7 linked regions of the Homo sapiens genome follow. The protein of the gene in region 3 purifies or fractionates together with the protein of the main gene of each other region. This does not show direct contact. Each region holds a gene or a part of one and is shown on either strand. Other genes may lie near its edges.

Evidence for each region.
Region 1: the proteins of TOR1AIP2 (region 3) and RBM15 purify together in Homo sapiens (affinity purification with mass spectrometry; 2 studies listed by BioGRID and IntAct, with this or other methods). This does not show direct contact.
Region 2: the proteins of TOR1AIP2 (region 3) and SLC16A10 purify together in Homo sapiens (affinity purification with mass spectrometry; 2 studies listed by BioGRID and IntAct, with this or other methods). This does not show direct contact.
Region 4: the proteins of TOR1AIP2 (region 3) and POMGNT1 purify together in Homo sapiens (co-immunoprecipitation; 3 studies listed by BioGRID and IntAct, with this or other methods). This does not show direct contact.
Region 5: the proteins of TOR1AIP2 (region 3) and TUBGCP4 purify together in Homo sapiens (affinity purification with mass spectrometry; 2 studies listed by BioGRID and IntAct, with this or other methods). This does not show direct contact.
Region 6: the proteins of TOR1AIP2 (region 3) and SLC25A14 purify together in Homo sapiens (affinity purification with mass spectrometry; 2 studies listed by BioGRID and IntAct, with this or other methods). This does not show direct contact.
Region 7: the proteins of TOR1AIP2 (region 3) and CUL4A purify together in Homo sapiens (affinity purification with mass spectrometry; 4 studies listed by BioGRID, with this or other methods). This does not show direct contact.

The regions. Positions count from the first base shown.
Region 1 is NC_000001.11:110,342,377-110,344,776, reverse strand, and holds part of RBM15 (RNA-binding protein 15), read right to left. Parts: intron 1-2,400. UniProt on the Homo sapiens protein: RNA-binding protein that acts as a key regulator of N6-methyladenosine (m6A) methylation of RNAs, thereby regulating different processes, such as hematopoietic cell homeostasis, alternative splicing of mRNAs and X chromosome inactivation mediated by Xist RNA.
Region 2 is NC_000006.12:111,094,003-111,097,502, reverse strand, and holds part of SLC16A10 (monocarboxylate transporter 10), read right to left. Parts: intron 1-3,500. UniProt on the Homo sapiens protein: Sodium- and proton-independent thyroid hormones and aromatic acids transporter.
Region 3 is NC_000001.11:179,850,304-179,853,803, forward strand, and holds part of TOR1AIP2 (torsin-1A-interacting protein 2), read right to left. Parts: intron 2,509-3,500; 5' UTR 2,363-2,508; coding exon 2,329-2,362; intron 1,061-2,328; coding exon 542-1,060; intron 1-541. UniProt on the Homo sapiens protein: Required for endoplasmic reticulum integrity. Regulates the distribution of TOR1A between the endoplasmic reticulum and the nuclear envelope as well as induces TOR1A, TOR1B and TOR3A ATPase activity.
Region 4 is NC_000001.11:46,195,635-46,199,731, forward strand, and holds the start of POMGNT1 (protein O-linked-mannose beta-1,2-N-acetylglucosaminyltransferase 1), read right to left. Parts: upstream 2,801-4,097; 5' UTR 2,702-2,800; exon of another isoform or gene 2,417-2,701; intron 2,238-2,416; 5' UTR 2,188-2,237; coding exon 2,068-2,187; intron 1,916-2,067; exon of another isoform or gene 1,728-1,915; coding exon of another isoform or gene 1,674-1,727; intron 1,451-1,673; coding exon 1,336-1,450; intron 1,216-1,335; coding exon 1,097-1,215; intron 856-1,096; exon of another isoform or gene 667-855; coding exon of another isoform or gene 568-666; intron 444-567; coding exon 378-443; intron 291-377; coding exon 177-290; intron 1-176. Other genes in the region: TSPAN1 (tetraspanin-1), read left to right, coding at 568-666. UniProt on the Homo sapiens protein: Participates in O-mannosyl glycosylation by catalyzing the addition of N-acetylglucosamine to O-linked mannose on glycoproteins.
Region 5 is NC_000015.10:43,395,101-43,398,600, reverse strand, and holds part of TUBGCP4 (gamma-tubulin complex component 4), read right to left. Parts: intron 3,495-3,500; coding exon 3,444-3,494; intron 3,019-3,443; coding exon 2,913-3,018; intron 1,388-2,912; coding exon 1,280-1,387; intron 564-1,279; coding exon of another isoform or gene 561-563; coding exon 422-560; intron 1-421. UniProt on the Homo sapiens protein: Component of the gamma-tubulin ring complex (gTuRC) which mediates microtubule nucleation.
Region 6 is NC_000023.11:130,363,919-130,367,418, reverse strand, and holds part of SLC25A14 (brain mitochondrial carrier protein 1 isoform 1 precursor), read right to left. Parts: intron 2,792-3,500; coding exon 2,667-2,791; exon of another isoform or gene 1,879-2,666; coding exon 1,743-1,878; intron 1-1,742. UniProt on the Homo sapiens protein: Transports inorganic anions (sulfate, sulfite, thiosulfate and phosphate) and, to a lesser extent, a variety of dicarboxylates (e.g. malonate, malate and citramalate) and, even more so, aspartate and glutamate and tricarboxylates.
Region 7 is NC_000013.11:113,240,613-113,244,112, reverse strand, and holds part of CUL4A (cullin-4A), read right to left. Parts: intron 1,146-3,500; coding exon 953-1,145; intron 1-952. UniProt on the Homo sapiens protein: Core component of multiple cullin-RING-based E3 ubiquitin-protein ligase complexes which mediate the ubiquitination of target proteins. As a scaffold protein may contribute to catalysis through positioning of the substrate and the ubiquitin-conjugating enzyme.

The sequences.
Region 1 (2,400 bases), about 70 Mb from region 3:
CAACGTTGGGATTATTAAATCCTGGCTAATGAGAAGTAGAACCGGTTTTAGACTTTTGCTTTCATTTGAATTCTTAAGGTTTAACTAGATACTTTATGGATATTATGAACCTGCACAAAAGAATGGGCAGTACAAATATGAGGTTCATGTGGACTATGGCACTCTGTAGGTAATGACCAACTAAACATAATTAGTTTTTTATAATACATACATTTAGAAATGGTATCAAGCCATTGTTTCAAAAACACTGAAGCACAAATTGCCCAGACCTAACAAAAGCGGCAATGTCAGGTAAAGATTCAAACAAACATGGAGCAAAAACACAGTACTCTTCTGTACGCTGTCACACTAACAAAAAACAAAAAACAAACAAAAAAAAAGAAAGTAAAAGAAAAGAAATAAAACACACATTTTGGATGACAGTAAAATTAGATGTCATGGACTTCACTCTCCAAAAGAGCAAAATCATTTGTCCAACTATCTCAACAAAAGATATTCAAAAATTAATGGTTAGTGAGTTTATTTAAACTGGAAAAATGTAGCTGGCCACAAATTATACTATGAGCCCACGTATGTAGACTCCACACTTGCATTAGTTTCTGAACAGGTGTCTACTCCAAACCAACCACAGCTTTTTGAAAGCAAGAAGCATCAAAAGTCTTCATTATAGGATTTCAGGTATTTTCCCAAGAGGCACAAGGACCTTCATGCTCATAGCCTAGAACCTTCCTTCTCTCAAAATGGCTAGTTTTTCCAGTTTAAAAACAAACAAACAAAAACCCCCACAAAACCTGCAAACTTAAAAAATTATAGATGCATAGTGAAAACCAAGAGGGATGACACAGCAGTGATGACACTTTTGTGCTGACATGCATTAGACACCTGTCATAATGGAAAATAAAAATTACATGACATTTCCCTGGGTTATTATTGGTGCTATTTCAAAACTACCAGCTTTGATAACAGAAAGAAAACAGTTGGGTTCTGCCAGGCTTCAAGTTAAGTCACTTTCATAGAACAGAAACATGACCATGATCCAGAAGGTCCAAAAGTCTCTAATCATAATTAAATATCAAGGGCCTTAGCTGAAGTCTTCAGCACTTAAATCAAGGGAGAAAAATATACTTACTAATGACCTGACAAATTAGGGGTGGGACAGAGGGGATAGATTAAAAAAAAAAAATCCATTACTGTTAAGCAGCAAAAGTCCTTGTTGAGAACCAGAGGTTGATATCATCTCACCTTTGAAAAAAAAAAAACTGTGAGGCTAAGTTAAATGATCCTGTATTAATTCCGGGTGTCTGGGAAAATAAAACAATTAAAAAAGGTTTTCCTACACTGACATTTCAATTCCGTAGCTGGACAGCAGTGAGAATATTGAACATAAAATTTCCAAGATGTTCAAAACATTTTCAATAATGTAATGTCACTACTGTTTAAATATGAAAATAAAAAGACAAGCAAAATTTTAAAAGAGCATGTCAAAGGCATTTTATGATGACTTTTTAAGAAATTCTGCAATCCAAATATGGCTGATTTAAATGCCCACTGAAATAAAAGATGACTATGAGCCTGCAGACAACTCTTCTTTCTATTATTGAAACCAGAAATTTGAATTGATACAAAAACAAAAACTCATCTTTGATGAAGAACACTTAGTTTCGAAATATGCACGATTAGAACTGTACCTGCTACACCTCTCTGAAAAAGTCAGTAAAAACACCACCACACACCAATAACTGACCAAAGAATTCTGATTTTAAAAGCACCTACTCACTTCTTGCATACTAGTGTAAGCATAAGACATATATGGTTTGTAACATAGTCCTTAATTTTTACTGAACAGTTACTGCTACAAACCAAAAGTGCATATATGGGATACAGAACTCTAGAACAAATGATTTAAAAAATGCATGTTAAAGCAAACTCTCTGGGAATAAACTGTATCTTAAGAAATACTCAAATACCTGATTAAAATAATTACATTGCTATACAATTTACCAGCATATCTTTGAGATCCCTGATCAAATTTCAGTCACACACATTTCTGGTAAAAGAATTATTTACCTACACACCAATCGAGTCATTTTTAGGTGGCTATTACTCTCTTTATATGGTCAGTGGACTCCTTTCTCCAAATTCTGACTTTTCAAAATTTTGGTTTTGTAACTCTGAGGATTTTTTAAGCTCAAGATTAAAAAAAAAACAACTGAATAGAGAAAAAAAATTACTCATAAGGGTGGGAACTCCTAATTAAAGCAAATCTGTCTGCCTGCCTGCTACCTTTAGGGCATCCCTTTCACTTAAAATAATAGCTAAACAAACAAAAAAATAGCTAAACTGTCCTGATTTCTATTTTAAAGACGTTTATAAAAATATAAAAAAGAAAATGCTACAACT
Region 2 (3,500 bases), on a different chromosome or scaffold from region 3:
ACCTCTACTAAAAATACAAAAAAATTAGCCAGGCATGGTGGTGCGTGCCTGTAGTCCCAGCTGCTCTGGAGGCTGGGACACGAAAATCGCTTGAACCCAGGCATCGGAGGTTGCAGTGAGCCGAGATCACGCCACTGCACTCCAGCCTGGGCGACAGAGCAAGACTCTGTCTCCAAAAAAAAATACAAATAAAAATTTAAAAAATAAAAGTAAAGCTTGACAAAATTTTGGCTGATGGATAAATACAGAGTATGACATTGTCTTCTGCCACTCACAAGGAAAGGCAAACTACACTTGGATGTGTGCAACAAAATTCTGAAGTACCATGAGACTTTTATGTTTATCAAGAGGGGACAAAGGGAGTTACAAACACTGTTTTGGGGCCAGGCACAGTGGCTCAAACCTGTAATCCCAACACTCTGGGAGCCTGAGGTTGGAGGATCACTTGAGCTCAGGCATTTGAAACCAGCTTGGGCAATATAGAGAGACCCTCCCCCACAAAAAAATTTTTAAAAATTAGCCAGGTGTGGTGGTATGTGCCTGTAATCCCAGCTGTTCAGGAGGTTGGGGCAGGAGGATCCCTTGAGCCCAAGAGGTTGAGGTTATGGTGAGCCATCACATCACTGACTGCACTCCAGTCTGAGCAAGAGAGCAAGACCCTGTCTCTTAACAAAAAAAAGAAAAGAAAGAAAGAAAGAAAAAAGATTCACTGCTTTGGTCCACAAAGGAAACATTGCTTTGGTCCACATTCAGTATTTCTAATCTGTATTTCATACTTATGCCCATAATTAAAAATTAGTGAAATGAAAAAAGACTTCTTACTTGAAAATAAGGCAAGCCATTTCTTCATCGACTTTTTTTTAGTTCCTATATGCAAGGTGAGGAATTACTTTTGCTGTTAAAGAAGGCACTTTAACAAAGAGGTATGATCATACACATTTGGCATGTACATTTGAAAGCACTGCTTTCCTCCATTCCTCCAGCCACTGATAGGCTATCTGTCTTATGTGGTGGGTCTGCGCAGTTCCCAGGTGTGCTGGAGTTTCCTGTTCTGAATCTCTGCCAATAAAAACATCCACAGTCCCTGCGTGGGTGGCACCAGGCCAAGGCAGGTGCTCAGAACTGTGGTGAGCTGACTGTTCATGTTATGTTTAGGGTTTAGCTTGTTTTTGTTAAGGTTTGCTTGTTTAATTTGAATATAAGACCAGATTTCTAGCTAGGCGGTGATAACTCTGGAATTCTTTTCCAAAAATGACATCACAGCATTTCTGATGACTTGAGTAGGAGACACTATTGAGAGAATATTCTAAAGAACATGCAAGTAAATATGTAGTAAATAGTTTCAGGCTGGGGACAGGAGTAGGATTCTACTTTCAGGACAACTTTGACATAAGTACAACTTTTTTCCAGCCAAAAAGCTGCTCTTAAGTTCAACTTAATAAAAGTAAATACTGATATCAATCCTAATACTGTGCAAGTTGCAACTTTCTTATCTATCCATGGAGGTAATGACATACCACAAGGCTACTCTAAAAAATAATGTACATGAAAGCCTTTTCTTTATGGTAATGGAATGTATTACTCCATTTTCATAGTGTTATGAAGAAATATCTGAGGCTGGGTAATTTATAAAGAAAAAGAGGTTTAATGGACTCACAGTTCCACATGGCTAGGGAGGCCTCACAATCATGGTGGAAGGTGAAAGAGGAGCAAAGGCATGTCTTACATGGCAACAGGCAACAGAAAGTGTGCAGGGGAACTGCCCTTTATAAACCATCAGATCTCATGAGACTTATTAACTATCACAAGAACAGCACAGGAAAACCTGCCCCCATGATTCAATTACCTCCCACCAGGTAATTACCTCCCTCCCATGACAAGTGTGGATTATGGGAGCTACAATTCAAGATGAGATTTGGGTGGGAACACAGCCAAACCATATCAGAGAATATAAAAATTACCACTTTAACAAATATGGATCATCTTTAAAATGGCTTTCACGGAATGCTTTATTAGAATAGGTTGAAATCAGGTTCTCTGTCTACCACTTTAAACATAATTTGTAACTTATTTGAATTCGTTCTCAAAACTCCAAAATGTAGCTACCCCCAATATTCCAAGTGCATCAAATACATAACAATTGCATAAAATCACTGTTTGTGTCCCAGGATTGTGACATAAGAATAAAATGGCCAACCATTTCATCAGAATCTCACAAGGACCAACCATCGCACTGAAGACAGGAGTGGCACACACAAAGGTACAGAGGCAAAAAGCAGCAAGACAAATTTGGGCCAGTGTAACACCTACAGGTTGGCTAGAACACAAAGACCAGTAAGGGAGAGAAGCAGGGGCAAGGCTAGAGGGCCAGGCAAGGGCCAGAGCTTGCAGGCCTTCGGAGTAGGGAGTTTGACATTTTCCTAAAAGTAATGAGTGTCACTGGGCATTTAAACAGAAAAATCATATGGTCCAATCTTTTAGAAAAATCACTCAGATGTACAACTGAGGACAAGCAATCCTGTTAAGGGGTTATGACTAATTGTTGCCAATAGTAATGAAGGTGGCCAGGCACAGTAGGTCCCGCCTGTAGTCCCAACACTTTGGGAAGTTGAGGCAGGAGGGTCGCTTGAGGCCAGGAGTTCAAGACAAGGCTGAGCAAAATAGCAAGATGCCATCTCCACATAAAAATTTTTTTTAATTAGCCGGCCATGGTGGCATGTGCCTGGTGTTGCAGCTACTCAAAAAGCTGAGATAGGAGGATTGCTTGAGCTTAGAAGTTTGAGGCTGCAGTGAGCTATGATCATGCCACTGCACTCCAGCCTGGGGAACACAGTGAGGCCCTATCCCAAAAAATAAAATAAAAAGTAAATGAAGGCATGAATTAAGACACAGTAGTGAAAGAAAAGTGGGACTGATTTATGAGGCATTAAGAAGGTAAACACAAAAGAACTCTGATTTAACAAAACAGGTAAGGAAGGAAGAGAAATAAGAAGCTAAGATACATTCCAGGTTTCTGACTTAAACAACCAGAGGTATCATGCACAGAGAATTAAGAAGGAGGAATATGGATTCAGAAGAATGCCGACAAATGGGCTGTCATTTTTGGTAGTAAGGGAAGGTTGTATGGTGTAGCTGAAAAATGAGTTCATGTTAGTTTAGTATGATGTACCTGTGTACCCAAATGGAACTGTCCAGAAATAGTAAATAAGTCTTGAACACAGTGATGAGATTTGGAAATAACAGCCCCAAGACAGTGGATGGAAGAAAGCAGGAAAAGTGAAGCAAGTATATGGCCAGGGGCTGAGCCTCAAGGAACTGCAACAAAAAGATGTAGCAAATCACATCAAAAGCAGAGTACAATTTATTCTAAAAGACACCTCAAAATCGCTCCTGAAAAAATGTGTTATGCTTTTCATTTTGGCTAATTGGGTTCTTTCAGCAGTTAATTTTATTGAAATTATTAATTTTTAATTCCATGAAAAAACACCACAGGAATCTCA
Region 3 (3,500 bases):
ACATGCTTGTTCCTCTTAACATATAGGCAGAAAAAACCACGTATAGAGAAACTAACTGTCTTACTCAAAGTCCTATAAAACTGAAACATGACTGAGTTAAGGATACTGTCCCATTAATGCTCATTTTTAAATATACCCATCTCTTGATTTATGTAACATTTAGTTTCCCAAAAAGTAAAAGATTTTAAAAATTGTAAGTCGAAATATTCTCATAAGAAATAAAAAACCAGAAGCGAATTTTTTAAAAGTCATGCCCCTTTTTGTCATATCACATTAATATAAACAGTTAATAAAAACATGCTTAGAAATGCAGTTTATGTGTAGGAAGCAACTTAATATAGTGGAATGAGCTAGCCTAGATGAGAAACCTCATTCTAAAATCAACTCAGTCATGGCTTGGTGTGAGCTTGGGCAAGGCCCAAAGGCCTTACTCCTATGAAAGATGACAAAAGTTCTCTGGAAAGAAGGCCTCTGACTTCTGCTGTGTTCTCAGTTAACAGAGCAGTACAAAACAGGAGAGTAGTTCAGGGGGTTCTCTTACCTGGGGCCAGCAGTCGCCTCCTCAGTGTATCCTCACCCTCTTGCCCTGCACTGGAATGACCAGGACTCTGGGCCTCCTGGGAGTCTGTAGTAGGTGGTTCCTGAGATGCTCCAGTTCCGTCACTCGCTTCCTTAGGGAGGGCCACAGAGCTGCTCCCTAAGTGTGCATCTGCTCTTCCTACCTTGTCACTTGGAGAATGGCTGGGATCTGGATCCAAGGGTTCTTTACCCAGATTTTCTGAAGGGAGGTGATGCCCTTTTCCGCCATCCAGAAAACTCTGCTTGTTCTCATCTTCTGTTTTATCCTTTGGATGTTTCCCCACATTTGCTTCATCTGGACTTTCTGATTTATCACCTGTATCTGCACTTTCTGGACCTTCTGTCTCTACCTCTTGGTGGTCTTTGCTAAGACCACAGGCAGAGTGTAGGATCTCAGCTTCTTCAGCATTACTTGCTATGATTGTGGTCTCCTGCGCCTGAGAATTTACTGATGGATCATTTTCCAAATCCTTTTGAGAGTCTATTGAGATAAAAGTTTATAATTTTTATTGGAAAAAATTCCCCATAAATTTATATTTTAACAAGGTCCCTGTTTAATAATAATATTTACATAGATTTTCATGGTTTACAAGACACTTCCTAAACATTATTTCTCTTGGCTCCCACTAAAGGCAATTAAAACAACAACAAAAAAAATCTTATCATGTTAATAAATATAAAATGACACTAATATAAAACAAATTATATGACAGAACAAACTTTTGGCTATATTAAATATATCCTCTTCCCTAATGAAAGGCAATGCTCATCAATGGTAGCAAAACCTTATGCAAAAGGCTGATAGGGACTTTTATAGTGGATGAGCCAGACTGACAACTGCTGAACCCAGCGACCAATCTTCACATCATGAAAACAGGGAAACCCAAACAGATATCATTTACTTTCTAATACAATGCAGTAAGAAGTACTCTAGACCACTTGGGAAGTATTTTTGCCAAACAACTAAACTTAAATCTGGTAAGTTTCTAGAGCAACCAGTTTCCAAGAAATATAGGGATACAGGAATACATTAAATTATGCCTCAAGAATATAATCAGCAAAACCCAGCACGTGGGAAATTCCAAAAGACTTTGTTTCTTTAATAAAAGTAAGAATGGCCAGATGTGGTGGCTCATGCATGTAATCCCAGCACTTTGGGAGGCCAAGGCAGGTGAATCACCTGAGGTCAGGAGTTCAAGACCAGCCTGGCAACATGGTGAAACCCCGTCTCTACTAAAAATACAAAAATTCACTGGGTGTGGTGGCAGGCGCCTGTAATCTCAGCTATTCTGGAGGCTGAAGCATGAGAATCACTCGAGCCCGGGAGGCGGAGGTTGCAGTGAGCTGAGATCACGCCACTGCACTCCAGCCTGGGTAACATAAAAAAAAAAAAAAGGAGAAGAAGAGGAAGAAGAAAGATACCTTCTAAATATAGCACATCACAGGATATATATAACTCTAAAGATTTGTCTACCATCATTTTTTAAAGAAGCATTGTATTTTTCCATTACTATAAGTCCTTACTATTGGAGTCTCTAAAACATTTATCTTCCTTATATTATAATTAGGGTCTCGCATTATAGTAAAATTCAGTAAATTTGAAAGAATAAGTATAATCAAAACAAATGAACCCACTGAATTAGCTTTTTTACTTCAAAACCTCAGATTTTAGTCATCAGAGATTTTCTCTCTCTGCACACCCCTGGTTTCCTACAGCAGCAACCTCAGTGCCAGACAAATCAGTCTTACCCTCTTGAGGTTCCCTAAGTCCACTGTCGGCCATGTTTGTGTTCTATCTCTTCAGAGTTGGGAGGATACTTTTTTTAGTACTTGGTTTTCCTTGTGAAGATGTCTTGTTTTCTTCTTGTCCCAAGTCCCAACAGACTCATGCTTCCCATGGACCCAGGAAATAAGGCATATATACAGTGACTAAAACAAAATGAAAAAAAATTAAATGACTTTTTATCCATACAAGGGAGAAATGCAAGTATCAGCTTTATTTATTAAATATGTGTAGCTTGAGTACTATTTCCTCTGTGAAACTTTTTTCGTGAAGAAAATTTCCTTTCATGAGAATCATATTCCAAATCCTAGACTACTGAAAAAAGCTCCAGATTATTAATCTTTCATGAATTTCATAATCTAATATATTCCAGCATAGTTGAAAGAGTATAAAAAGTAAGATCAAGTGACCAGAATCTTCAACAGACTAGCTTGAATTAAAATAAAAAATAAATCTAAGAGTAGAAATTTAAGTCATTGCTGAAACAATCACTGCAGATTTCCTGGATGTCTTCAATTTCTGTCCCAGATAATTTTCTCATAGTCTGCCTATCAGGAGCTTTCACTTATATTAAAAAGTAACAATGCACAGGAGGTTCCCACAAACTGAGATGGCTGCTTTGAGGTGTACCACTACACATTTGGACTGACTTTGAAGTGGTTTTCTCGAAGTATTCTTTTGTAAAATATGGAGACAGATATTCCTTTATACAATGCCTTTTTATGCAATGCTCAAAGACAGACAAAGAAAATTATTAAGGTTTACACAAAAGGAATCAAAATCAAAGGCACTTTATAAGCAATAAAAACAGTCATATTTTATAGTTCTTTTTTTTGTCAAAAACAAATTGATCAATAAAGTTACTTAATATTTATTCCCTATGAAAATGAGAATAATGATATCTATGAGGCTTAAATACAAAAATATATAAGAAAAACCTGTGTGAAGTGTTATAGTTTTTTGACAGCCTAGCTGGAAGGCTAGCCAACTGGCCGTCTTTATGTTTTTCTCAGTACTCTTTTGTAAAATTTAAATTTACACATTAAAAACTTTGATCCCCAATGCCTACACGGTGCCTAGTGTATAGTAAGAACTCCATATTTTAACTTAAAAGCTTATGAAAAAATAAATGAATGTA
Region 4 (4,097 bases), about 130 Mb from region 3:
CTGTTGCTCAATAACTATTTGCTGAATTAATACAAATGTTAAGGCTGAGATTGGAACCTGAGTAACCTTCCTTCAGAGAATCTTCCCACTATGTTATATGAGGGGCAGAGAAGCCGGGGCTAGAAGCAGGGTTGGAGCTAGGGAGTAGGGGTCAGGGTCAGGACAGAATAACTGACCTTGACAGTGCAGATGAGCACTCGGCCGGGCGCTACCATGTTGAGGAATAGCACCATGGCCTCATCCTCATGAGGTGAGTACGTGTCAAACACACGTTTTGCCATCACGTGGCCCTGGCAGGGGATATACTTCTGGTGAGTTGGTGTCATCAGCAAGAGCCCAGCTCCAGCCCTCTGGGTCACCCACCCCTAGAAACTCACCGTGGCCTGGTTGAGGACAATGACATGGATGCCCCGGCCCTGCTCCCGGGCCTCATCCTCCAGCACCTACACAGTGGCAGAGACAAAGTCCAGCTTTTCACTCTGGCATTCAAGGTGTCTCTGTCTTAGGGGTACTTAAAACACCAGCTGCTTGAAACATCACCTCCTGCCTATGTTTCTGTTCACACAGTTCTTTTCCAACTCAGCTCGAAGGCCACCTCTTCCAGAAAGCCTCTATAGCACTCCCATCAGAAGAGATCACGTCTTTCTACAACCCTCCCCTCCATGACTTTCATGGCTCTTAGAGCCTCTGCTGTCTCTGCTTCATCCTGGAAGTATCACAATCCTCCACCACACTGAACCCCTCAAGGTAGGGCCAGGTCTGATTACTTTCAGGTCCCCAGTGCCCAGCACAAGGCTGAGGCCAAAGAAAGGACCAGGGGATGGTTATAAAATAAATCAATGAATTGACTGCCTACTATTATGAATGATTACTTTTGAGATCCCACTACATACAAGACACTTCACAAACTTTTCATTGAATCCTGACAAGTAGAAATCATTAGTCCCAGTCTATAGATAAGGAATCGAGGACTCCAAAGTCACACAGCTAGAAACTGGCAGAGTTGCAGTTCCCACTTAGGCAGTAGACCCTGCTGCCAGTGGACCATGCCCTGAGCAGAATAGAGTGACTGTACACCAGACCCTGGCCCACTGACCGTGGTGCCATCCACTGCCACATATACTTTGCTGCGACTTGAATACACCTCTACGTCCAGGACCCGCCGGGGACCACTGCCTCTGCGCCGTGGGGGCTCCAGGCGGCCTAGGGCCTCATCTGTGGGGTACAACAGGTCATGGAGATAGTCTCCTCAGCAGAGTCTCACCGCTTAGGGTCTGCCTGCCACTCCAGCTGTGAGATCCAAGGCCCCCTACCCCATCCTTAGCCTAGCCCTACCATAGTCTTGCTCTGGCTCTGGGTCTTCATTGGCTTCACTGATGGCTCGCCGAGTGTCCAGGATCAACTTGATATTGACAATGACAGTCACCAGCAGGAAAAGCACGGCCCCTGTCTGAGGGGAGGGGTAGGGATGATTAAGAGGAGCACCTCCTTCAGATCCTAGAGGGTCTTTCTGAAAGGAGGGCCCTGGCTGCAGTGAAGACATCCAGAGAAACTGGGTCCTGTCCCTTCCTCTGTCTGCCTAGCTCTACTCCCCTGACCAGGGCCTAGTTTCACAGCCACTTTCCCCAGGGAACCTCCCCTGACACTTCCCCCTCCATTAGGGCCCTCCCTACCCAGTGCTCCTGTATTCTTCTATTTGAGACCTTGATTTCCTTGGTCCCCTCCATTGTTGGTTTCTAGAGATGGAGCCAGGCCCAGGGACCCAAGCGGGGGATCAGACCTGGGTCCTGGCCCTAACTGCCTCACAGGGGTGTGCCTCTCTGCAAAGCCAGCCTGATCAGACTTCAGGCTTCCGTCAGAAGCTTAGAAGTTGTACTTGGGTTCCGATTCCAGAACTTTGGGTTCAAATCATTACCTATAGGGACATGACACATAGAGGTCTCCCCTCTAGGAACCTGCTGCCCCTTTCCCACTGGGGCTGGCCAACAGGGGTCCCAGTGCCTGATTTAGGTGGGGAGGAAGCTGGGAGGGAGCGCTCGGTGGGGAGGGTTTGGGACATCTCTATACCTGACAGAATCTCCGCAGGGCCCGCTGGTTTGTCAGTTTATACTTCCAGGTAAGGTACCAGCTCCGCTTCTTCCGAGCCCCAAAGGGCTTGATGAGGGGGCTGGGCTTCCAGTCGTCCATACCGGATTGGCGGGTCACCAATGTCCTGGCCAGCCCATGACTTCAGGAATCTGAAGGGACCAGAGGGCCACATGGGGTAAGATGCTCCTCCCAAAGTCTGATGCCTTCTGGGGAGATGAGGGAGGACCTCCCAGCAACTCTTCCCTGCAAGCACCCATACTGTGTGACATGGGGAAAGTGGCTCAACTTCTCTGGGCTGGCAGGAAACCCTTCAGTGGGGTTGGATCACCTGGAAATTCCCTGAGACTGGAGTAACTCTCTGAATCAAGGCTGTCCAAGGGTGGAGGCCAAATAATCGGCTCAAAGTTCGTTAGCCCCTACAAGGACCAAGTTCCAGGCCTTCCCAAGCCTGTGGTGAGCAAAGAGCGACCTCTCCTGCCCCAGTCTTCAACCCTCGTCCCATCCTATCTGCCCCAGCTTCTCTCCTCCTCCCAGGGCCCGGAGCCGCCCGAGGGCTCAGGAGACCTGCACCGGCAGCGCTACCCGTTCCGGACACCCACGCGGAGGCACTCACGGCTTAGGGGCCCCGGGCCCCGCTCGGGCCCCGCTAGGGCCCTCACTGCTCGGCCCGGCTCGCCGCGGCCTCCGCCTCCTCCATGCCGCTTGCGGCCCCGCCCCGGCCTGGCCCGCCCCCCCGCTTCCGCCGCCGCCGCCGCCGCCGCTGCCGCGGGGTGAGAGGGCGACGGGCGGTGCTTAGGGCGGCGGCGGCGGCGGCGGCGGTGGCGGCAGCGGCGTCGGGGTGTAAGCAGCCAGCGAGTAAGGCGAATGCTCAGACCGTGCTAGGCAGCTTCGCAGCCCGGCTGGCTGGTGGGGCTGCCTGCACGAGAGCAGCCCGCTCCCCAGCACCGCCGATGGCAAGCCCGACTCCAGTCAGAGGCCTAGCACCTTGGACCAGATCACAGGGCACGCCAGGGTCAGAGGGGCTGCAACCCTTGGACACAGGGCACACACCACCCGCCCCATACCCGTCCTGGGCAAGGCCGTTACCTAGTCCTGGGGCATGCACAGCTATTGGAGGCCAAGGGAGATTAAAATCCAGGTTCTGTCACTGTTCTAAGCACCTTACTGATGATGTTTAATTCCACAACAACCCCATGAGGTAGGCGCTATTATCATTATTATTGTTTTTTTTTTAATTGAGACGGAGTCTCGCTCTGTCGCCCAGGCTGGAGTGCAGTGGCACCATCTCGGCTCGCTGCAACCTCCGCCTTCTGGGTTCAAGCGATTCTCCTGCCTCAGCCTCCTGAGTAGCTGGGACTACGGTCGTGCGCCACCACACCCAGCTAATTTTTATATTTTTAGTAGAGACGGGGTTTCACCATGTTGGCCAGGCTGGTCTTGAACTTCTGACCTCAAGTGATCCGCCCGCCTTGGCCTCCCAAAGTGCTGGGATTATGGGCAGTGAGCCACCGTGCTGGCTATAGGCGCTATTACTATCCCTGTCGCAGATAAAGAAATAAGACCTAATATCACAAAGCTAGGAGAGGTGGAATTGAAACTCAGCCTAGCTCCAGATTCTGCTCTTAACCACTGCACTCTGCTGGCAACAATACATAAGAATTGCCAGGTTTAAATAACATCATACATAGAAAGCAGTTAGCTTAACACAATGGTTCTCAAACTTTAGCTTGCGTCAGAATCACCTGGATGACTTCTTAAAACAGAGGTGCTGGGCCCCATCCCTAGAGTTTTAGATTCAGTGGTCTGGGGCAGGGTGGGATTTTGCATTCCTGAGAAGTTTCTAGGTGATGTTGATGCTTGTTTGAAGTGGATAGCCATAGAACAGTTTTAGGCAGGGGAGCAATATAATCCAATTTCTGTTTTAAGAGAACCTTTACTTTTTTTGTGGAGAATGGGTTGGAAGCAGACAGAGGAAGCCAGAAGACCAGTTAGATTTTTTTGAGCTTTCT
Region 5 (3,500 bases), on a different chromosome or scaffold from region 3:
AACAAACTGCTTATTATTTGGCAATTTAAAAAAATGATGGTTTGAAGTAGATATGCCCTCCCACTGATTCCAACTCCGTGTCTCATATCTGTGGCTTCACTTATTAATGTGATCAGTCTAGCCCCTGAAGGCATAAGGGTTTACAATTTTTGATTTACAGATTGTTAAAAACTAGTTGGGTGGCTCTCTTGCTCCCATTAATTTTTTTTTTTTTTTTTATGAGATGGGGGTCTTACTATGTTGCCCAGGATGGATTTGAAATCCTGGGCTTAAGGGATCCTCCTGCTCAGGCTCTGGACTAGCTGGGATTACAGGTGTGTGCCACCACACCTTGCTTTCCCACTAATTCTGTTCCTGCTAGTTTCTTCCCTTACAAGTAAGGTGGGTCATATTTACCTGTGAGAAACTCAGAAATACTCACTTTTCCAGGACAGCTGGGGTGAAGAGAATATGTAGTGGCCACTGTACTTTGTAGGAAAGACCTAGGGCTGCCCAGCCAGATGCAGGGGCTTCCCGGGGAGAAGTTTCCCGAGAAGGCCCTTCTCTTGCCTGAGTAGCATCTGCTGTGATAAAAGAAAAGAAAAAAAGAAAAGATAACAACTTGGTTAATCTAGAACCAGAGACTCAACAAGTGAATAACATTAATGAAACTAGAGCTCACAGGAGTTCAAGACCAGTCTGGGCAATACAGTGAAACCCCATCTCTACTAAAAATACATAAATTAGCTGGGCATGGTGGCACGCACTTGTAGTCCCAGCTACTCAGGGGGGCTGAGGCATGAGAATTGTTTGAACCTGGAAGGCAGAGGTTGTAGTGAGCCAAGATTGTGCCACTGCACTCCAGCCTGGTCAACAGAGTGAGACTCTGTCTCCAAAAGAAAAGCAACAGAGCTCAATGGAGTCTGCGATGTCAGAAGCTTACAGGGGACACTAAGAAGGGGGCAAGGAAACTTCTATGTGAGGTTCTCTTGGGAGGTCTTCTAGAGATTCTTTCCTCAGCCTTAAAATCTGGGGGCTGGAAATAAACAGGCACCATTCCAGCAGCATGACAAAAAAAAACACCAAAAAAACCAACTCCCCCAAAACATGGCCTGGGCATCTCACTTAGCCTCTCTGGACTTCTGGACTTTCCTTTTCTTCTCTATAGAATTATAGTACTGTACTAGCTGATTTCTAAGATCCAAAATCATATGGTTTCTGTGGCGGGGGATGGAAGCAGAGATGGGAAAATGGATGATGACCAGCAGGAACTCTAAGGTGGCAGGGAGGAATGGCAAACCTTTGTGCTCCTTTCCGTGATACTCGATTGTCAAGTGCAACAGAGGGAGAAGGTTGTCATCATCTAGCAATACCTTGTGTGCTGACTGTTGAAAGGCCACATTCACATCTGCAAGAAAGAACACGCAGGCTGACAGGGACGCTTGGCTACATAACAAACCCAGACTCCTCCAGCTTTCCACTTCTCCCCCAACATGCTCAATGCTAACAGCAGGACACAGTGGACATCTGTTTCATTTGTCTAACACCCATCCATCCTTCTCTTCTTGCTGACAAACTGCCTCTTGATTTTCCTTGGAGAATCATCCCTATTCAGTACAGTTCACATATTTCCAGTGGGTTAGTGCTAGACAACACCTGATTCTAGGGGTAGCTGGGTGATGTAGGCATGATCAAATGGAATGTAATACTCTACTTTGTTATGCTATATTGTTTAGGGATATTAACATGACCAAGCCAGGCCAATCCAGAGGCTCTATTCAGACTCTAAAAGAGTCCAGCTCTTTTTTCAAGATAAACAGGGGCTTAGTAGGATGTAAACTTGGCTAGAGACTATCTTGCTACCATACAGAGCAGGCCTGTCTGAGAAGAAAGAGGTAGAAGATGGAAAGAGACCAAGTCCTAAAGGTGCCACACCTGTCACTGGATCAAACTTAGCCGAAAACCATCATACGTCTGAGCTTTTCAGTTATGAGAATCAATACATTATTTCTTTCCTTTTGCTTTGCTTAAGTGAGTTTGAATTGGATTTTCTGATATTTGCAACCACAAGTACTTATATTTGTACTATATAAGTACAGTGGACATCTATGGTTTTACTGAGTTAGAAAAATGATCAGCCTGTGTGTATGTATTTTCTTTCTCACAGTTTCTTTTTTTGGATCCTTACCCAACTCTACTCATGCAGTATGAATGGGAATGGACATCAGTGGGTCAAGGGGTAGACTCTTCACTGAACTAGGCATAGCCTAGTGTCTGACCTCTTTGACTGATACAGGGATAGGGATGTGATGTGGGCTGGGCCAATCAAAACCTAGATAATTCCCTAGAATTCTCTAACTTGCAACAAGAGGGACTGGGTTCAGTTCCTTCCGTAGAGGACACTGTGAGGCATATTCCTGGGAGATGCTGTGATCATGTTTCCAGAAGGTCATCAAAGTGTTCACAAGAGACACAAACAAGATGTGGTGAATGAGTGAATGAGAGAGAGAGAGAATGAATCGAAGTTTTCCCACTGGGGTTTTAGATACAATAGCAAATCCATTTCCCTTTCCTAACTAGGCTAGTTCGGGTGAGTTTCCATCATTCACACCTAAAGAATTCTACTGCAAAACTACAAGCAGCACTAAGTCCCAATATGGCCCATAAAGTATATATGGCTATAATCCAATGAGAAAAAATACCTGGTTTGAAGGCCTGAACCAACTCTTCCAGGAAGGGTCACAGGCCAAGACACTGTTCCCAATGACCCCAGCATGAAGCCTACCTGCAAGAGCCTTCCATCTCTGGAAGCCACTGCTCTGTAACTCATCAGGCTGCTCTTATGTGGAGCAGGCCTTAAAAGGGTCAGCAGCAGCCAAGAAATACCCTGCAATGTCAATCAGTTGATCATTCTCAGGGCCACTGACAATTACCATGCTCAGTTACTGCAGTGGGTGGTGTTTTCAACATGTGTTGAGCTGTGTCAATGAAGGCCTGAAACAGTTCTCCACGTCCCAGAAGGTAAAAGTCTTTAATGATCTGAGGAAAGAATTTCAATTTACAATTCAGTAAAGCAAGGCAGGAGCTCCTCACTGTCCTGAGGAATTACATGTATACAGTAATTTCTAATTTCATCAATTTGAGCCCAAGCTACAAAAGATACAGGCATTTGGCATTTCAAAGAGGCATACTTAGTTCCGCATAGCAGGATGACTGGTGTGTATTTGGCATTATTTATTCAATAGCAACATAATTATATATATATGCCAGAAAAAAGTACACTCCCAAATCTTTGTATTATCGTAGATTTGTGGCATTAGGTATAGTTTGCTCACTTGGATAAGAACAAATGAGTTGACTCTGGAAGTCTGGGTATAGGCAACCAGTGCTCTCAGGAAACATCAGAGAATGCAAGTCACTGCCTACCAGCATCACCGTAAGAATTACAACAGCTAAGCCATTACCTTCAGCTGACCCAGTAAATCGGATTCTTCTACCATCAACTTCCAGAGATGCTATGA
Region 6 (3,500 bases), on a different chromosome or scaffold from region 3:
AAGACGTGCTCCTCTTGTGATGCCTCTGTCAATGAATGTCACCACCTGGTCACCAACTCCAAAAACCCAGAACTTATCTTTGACACCTCTTTTCTCCCACACCCCTCCACATCCAGTCAATCAAATCCTGCTGACTCTATCAACTAATTCTTTCTTGACTCTGTCCCACCTTCTATATCTCCATTATCATGCTCAAGTTCAGGCCTTCATCCCCTCTTTCTCAGATTACAAGAGCCTTCTAATCAGCTTCCCTATCTGTAGGTCAGTGGTTCTCCAAGTGTGGTCTCCAGACTAGCAACATCAGTATTGCCTGGGAATTTATTAAAAATGCAAATTTCCAGGTCCCACTCCATACTTACTAAATCAGAATCTGGAGATGGCTCCAAGTGAACTGCAGTTTAACAAGCCCTCCAGGTAATTCTGATGCATGTTAAACTTTGAAGAACCATGGCTCCAGGCTTATCCCCTTAGTAGTCTTCAACCTTAGGTGAACATTGCAGTCACCTGATATAGTTTAAAATATTGACACCTGGACCTTACTCCCCAGGTTCTGAGTTAATTGGTCTAAGGTAGAGGAGGGAGCTGCGAAAGTTCTCCCAAGTGATTCCAATGTGTACCCAAGATGAGGAACCACTGTGGTAGATCCAGTCTCCATAAAGCCAAAGTAATCTATTTAAAATGCAAAGCTAATCTGATTAAAAACTTTCAACAGCTCCCTGACAAGTTAAAAAAAAGTCCAAGCACCTCAATATAGCATTCAGTATCCTTTATAATCTAACCCTTGGCCACCAATATGAGGAAAGCACCATAGTGGAGAGGTAAATGTCAGTTTGAGGTCAAGTGATCTGAGTTTAAATTCCAGTTCTCCCACTTAGTAGCTGTGAAACCTTAGGCAGCTTACTTAATCTTTCAGTGCTTCAGTGTCTACCTCGTGGAGTAATGGTGAGGATTCAATGAACGAATACACATAAGTCTCATAAGGACAGTTGCTGACACACAAAAAAGCACTCAGTGGATATGAGTTATTGTTATTCAAGATGCCACCATCTACAGGGAGCCTACCTCAATGCTTCCAAATTGAGAACTCTTGAGTTTATCACTTATCAGGCTGTACTGATGATCCGTTTGTATACCTATAGTACTTTTGTAATAACTGTAATTTCTCTCTAACTACTAAAATGGTGTCTAATATGTAATAGTTGTTAAACAAAACTGATAACAGGAGAGAAACCATATGGCAACATCATATTTTAGCCTCAATTTGTTTTCAGTAGCAATAATATCACCAGTAATGATGTAATACTTTTAGAATATTCAGTTCCCACAAACACAACAGCAGGAACTTTCAAAGCCAAAGTGAACAACAGCATAACCGTGAACTGAAATAAAATACAGGCTTTTTTCCTTAAGTATTGAGTTTTCTATTGCAGGGTCTCTGTGTTGTATGAAGTAGGCAAATGGGGGATATATTGTCTTTTCTATCAATAATTCTACATGATACTATTAATAAAAGCATCCTGTATTTTAAAGCATTCAAATGGGAATCATTATATTAAGTACCACTGCAAATTAGCAGATTGCTAAGGAGACAGCTTTTCTACCTGGGAATAACTGAGAAGCTACTAAAAAAATATGATTCTTTCATCTTCAAAATGGTATGTAGCAACTAATAATAAGAACTGAAGGAAGGTCTAAGACATCAAAGAAAGCCAAATTGTAACCCAAATCCACAATGTACTTACCTTTAAAATACCATCAACAGTGCCCTTATAGAGATCCACATGTCCCACGATTGCCCTCTGGTTCATCATGCGAGTTCGAACCACATCAACCGGGTTGGAGGCCAGAGCCCCAGCCAAACCACATGTAAAGCTGGAACTAAGAGGAAAAGTTTAAGTAGATCGACCCCACTTTCACTCCCTGCCCACTTAAACAGAAATTAGGCCAAACGTAAACTGTACAATATAACTCAGACCCATCAGATAAAACCTGGCACTTGGCCTTTCGTTACAATCTAAAGAGACAGGAAATTTTTCTAAAGAGACATCATTCAAAGGCTGTCCCTTCAATTTTCAATCTGAAACTCAGCCTTTTTTTTAAAGGAGAGTTTCTAAACCTAACAAGATTCCTAAGTAGAAAGTATCATGCACCATGTATTAGTTACATAAATTTTTCAAACCACAGCATCACATGCCAAATGCATTTGAGTAACAAAATTATCATAAAGGTTGCAAGACAAAGAAAATGTAAAATGAGATCAGTAACAGTCTTTAGCCAAAAAACTGTGCTTTAGTTTCACAGACCTTATTTACCCCTTTTTTTCTGATTCCCACTGAGAAAAGTTTGCTTTCTCAAACAAAATTAACCAAAGCAAATAATAGATGTGCTTATTAGATATAGAAGCTATGTATGGATAAATGTAAATCAAATAGACCTCTGATAGGCTGCTGTATTAGACAATGTTCCCAAGTACCCAAGCCCCCATAGCACCTGGCATTTCTGTGAAGTATAAAGTGTTCATAAGGCTTGAAGTTCTGATAATAGGAGAGACAAGGGAATTTAGGCCATACGTACCAGTTATCAAATTCCACCTGAGGATTTCAGTAAAAGAGGCTTTTTGTGCTCAAAATGCTGGAAATAAAATGAGCACATCCCATCCTACTTACACGAAGTGAGTTAAAATTGTATCGCCCATCATTCCTGACAATATTAAATGCTTCTTAGTAATATCATAGACTGGTAGCTCTACTCCTACAACGATGGCAGCACGCTGAGCAGTTGGAACCACACCCTACGAAACACAAGTGACATTAGGCACCAAGGAAATACAAAGGGAGTGATGTCTTAGAGTGAACAAAATAGGTCAGGAGTTGAAAAGTAACAGAAAAATACAAGTCTGAAGTACAGACGTCACTCTTTCAAATCAATGACTAATAATGGAACATATACAAATTTCCAATTCACTTGCTATACTAAAAATAAAATAATTGATATGACACCCAAAGCACAAAAGACAAAAGAAAAAAAAAAGATCAACTGGACTTCATCACAATTAAAAACTTTTATGACTCAAAAGACACCACTCAGAAAGTGAAGAGTCAACATACACAAAGGAAAAAAACATTTGCCGCTCATATATCTGATAAGGGACTAGTGTCAAGAATATATAAATAACTCTTACAACAAAAAAGGCAAACAATCCAATTTTAAAATGGCCAAAAGACCTGAAGATATTTCCTTCAAAAAAGATACACAAATGGCCAATAAGCACACGAAAAGATGCTAAACATCATTAGTCACTAGAGAAATGCAAATCAAAACCACAAGGACATACCACTTCATACCTACTAGGATGGCTATAACGATTTTTCTTTTAAGTAAAAGAAGGCCAGGCACAGGGGCTCATGCCTGTAATCCCAGCACTTTGAGAGGGTGAGGCAGGAGGATCACTTGAGGAGGAGTTCTAGACAAACCTGGGCAATACAGTAAGACTCTATCTC
Region 7 (3,500 bases), on a different chromosome or scaffold from region 3:
TTCAGGACGTGACTGCCCCGGACGCTGGAGTGCCTATTTCTAGGATCTGGTGTCATGAATGCAGAGGAGACATTCTCAAAGAGAAAGACTTTCTCAGAGCATCCAAGGTGGCAACGCAGGGTGAAAGCATTTCTACTCGGGCTTCCTGTTTCTGAGGCTGCACAAGCCATCGTCAGGTGGCTTGGGAGGGAGGACCAAAGTCCCCATGTGATGGGAGAACCCAAGACTTCCAGAAGCCCAAACTCCCAAGAGCTCAACATCCCTTTGCTTTAGAGAAACCACAAATGATACAGAGGAACAAAAGCCAAAGTAAACTGCCTCCTGAATTCCTTCTGTTGCTGTTTTTGTTAGTTTTTTTCTTTTAAACATTTTGTAATGGAATATTCTGAACACACAGAAAAGCAGACAATTGCACAATGAGCTCCATGTTCCATCTTACATCTTCAGCAGTAATCAACAGTCAATCTAGTATCGTCGTATTTCAGCTCTCTTTGCCCCCTTTCTCCTTCGAATTAAAAAAAAAATTTTACTGACTAGAGAAAGCCTATGAATTCTGAAATATATTTTGATATTATTGTGAAAAAATTGTACAGCTTAAAAATAGTATTATCATTTGAGATCTCATCTGGTTTTATCCTATTTTAATATGGATTAGAGGATACAAAGATGGTGATCACCCCTCCCTTCTTTGGCGAAGTCAAGCATCATTTCTTTTCTAAATTCTTACCTCATCTTCCCTTATGGAAATGCCCTCCTCCACCCATGCATGCAGGTGTGTCGGTTTTTAAATTTGTGTCCTAATAAGACTTGATAAAAACGCTTTCCACACACCCCTTGAGCAGCTTGAACATTTTGGTTGATTTTGCCTTATTTTCCCATATTAAAAAATTGTCTAGAAATGGGTGAGACTGTCTCAAAAACAAACAAACAAAAAAAACAAATATTTTTCTACCGATCAGTTCTGCAGGCTTGTTGGGTCTCTTGTTGATGAACGTCTCAAAGGACTCCTTCATCAGGTTGACGAACCGCTCATTCTTCTGGAAGCAGACCTCGATCACGTGGTCCACCTTGTCCTTGAAGTCCAACAGGTCTTGGACCATGTCTTTGTCTTTCTCAGGATTGATTACGATCGCTGTTCCAAAAGTCTACAAAAGCAAATCAATACCAACTCAGCAACATGTTTACAATAGCAAACAGTATCTTCTCCTGCTATCATATAATCAGGATAGTTTAACATAAATTACTCTTAGTAGTAAATACTCAATAACTTTAAAAGTTTCACAAATTGAATTCACATTTCAAAAATTAAGTGAATACACTTTTTTTTGAGGCAGGCCCTCACTCTGCGGCCGAGGCTGGAGTGCGGTGGTGCAATCACGGTTCACTGCAGCCTCAACCTCCCAAGCTCAAGCAATCCTCCCACCTCAGCCTCCTGAGTAGCTGGTGCTACAGGCTCAGGCCACCACATCTGGCCCATCTTTTTAAAGTTTTGTAGAGACGGGGTCATGTTGCCCAGGCTGGTCTCGAACTCCTGGCCTCAAGCAATCCTCCCACTGTGATTTCCCAAAGTGCTGGGTTTACAGGCATGAGCCCCTGTGCTTGGTGTGAATATACAATTAAATACACAATTAATGCATTGGTCTTACGATTCTGTTTCTGAGAGAACTTACAAACGACTGGAAAATGTCCGTTGCTTTTTAAAGAATGTTTATGTGTAAGTTCCTCCAAGACAAGTTAATTCCTATTAATTCAATATACCTCTTGGGACTTCTTGGCTAGTTTTCCTTCTCCATCACTTCTAACCATGAAAAGCTCACTTTTTTAGTTTGTACTTTTTTTTTTTTGTTTTGAGATGGACTCTCGCTTTGTCACCAGGCTGGAGTGCAGTGGCGTGATCTCGGCTCACTGCAACCTCCGCCTCCCATGTAGCTGGGACTACAGGTGCACACCACCACGCCCAGCTAGAGACGGGGTTTCACCATGTTGGCCAGGATGGTCTTGATCTCTTGACTTCATGATCTGCCTGCCTTGGCCTCCCAAAGTGGTGGGATTACAAGCGTGAGCCACTGTGCCTAGCCTAGTTTGTATTTTTAATTTAAAACTGTTATATTAAACATTCCTAAAAGTCTGTGTAGGGCACTAATAAACAGTTAACATTTGATGATATAAACTATATATGCCGAAGAGGAACTGAATACAATGATTGGATTTAAAAAATTCGTCTCAATAGAATGCACATGTGCACTCACACATCACACACACACGCGAGGTAGCTGGCTGGTGGAAAGATGCCAAGAGAAGGCTGGGCGCAGTGGCTCACGCTTGTAATCCCAGCACTTTGGGAGGCTAAGGCGGGTGGATCACAAGGTCTGGAGTTCCAAGACCAGCTTGGACAATATGGTGAAACCCCATCTCTACTAAAAATACAAAAATTGGCCAGGTGTGGTGGCGGGAGCCTGTAATCCCAGCTACTCAGGAGGCTGAGGCAGGGAACTGCTTGAACCCAGGAGGCAGAGGTTGCAGTGAGCTGAGATCACGCCACTACACTCCAGCCTGGATGACAGAGTGAGACTCCACCTCAAAAAAAAAAAAAAAAAAAAAGATGCCAACAGAAAGGGCACAGACTCTCCCAGAGAGGGGCGGTGTGTGGCTAGCAGGTGTGGGAGGGACTTACCTCTTACTCTACACCCTTTGGTGCTAACTGCATTTTGAAATAATGCACATACACTACAAGGCCCAGCTTTATTTTGATAACGGCATGTGGAGTTGAATATAAACTACTATTTTGTTACAGTATAACTACTTATTGCTGACACTCAGGGGTGATGGTCACTCACTGATTTTTATTACCCAGACTGGAAACTGCAAAGGTGAACTTTTCCTAGTTTTTAGCACACATTCCCATCCCCTGAAGACTGTCTCACTGGCAAAAAACCTAAATCTTCAGTAGCTTTATGGCCAATTTAGTGTGACTCAGTTATAAGTTCCAATTCTATCATTGTACGAGACCTTGTGGGGAGGGGTGCTGTGAGTGCTGGCTTTCCACAGCTGGACTGATACATGACTTCAGGTCTGATTATTCCATAAAGCAGCATGTAAGCTTTATCTTTTTTATTTAACGGAAATCTTTATTCAGATAATGACAGATTTGCATAATAGTAAAAATAGCAAAGCAATCCCAGTGTCTTTATTTCCACAGTTTCCTCCAATGGCAACGGTTTGCGAAACTACACAACAGTGTCTCAGCTGGGGTACTGACATGGCAGCGCACCCGTCTTTTTCACATGGCCCAGTTTACTCGTAACTCATCTGGGTGTGCACATCTAGACCTCGGCCGAAACCCCGACTGTTCCCGCAGAAGGCTACCTCCTGGGGCCTTTTATAACCACACACCCTGCCCCATCCCTACACCCTGGTAACTTTTCATCTATCCTCCATTTCTAAATTTTGTCATTTCCAAAATGTTATGCAATAACACGTTAAGTATCTGTGATTGGCTT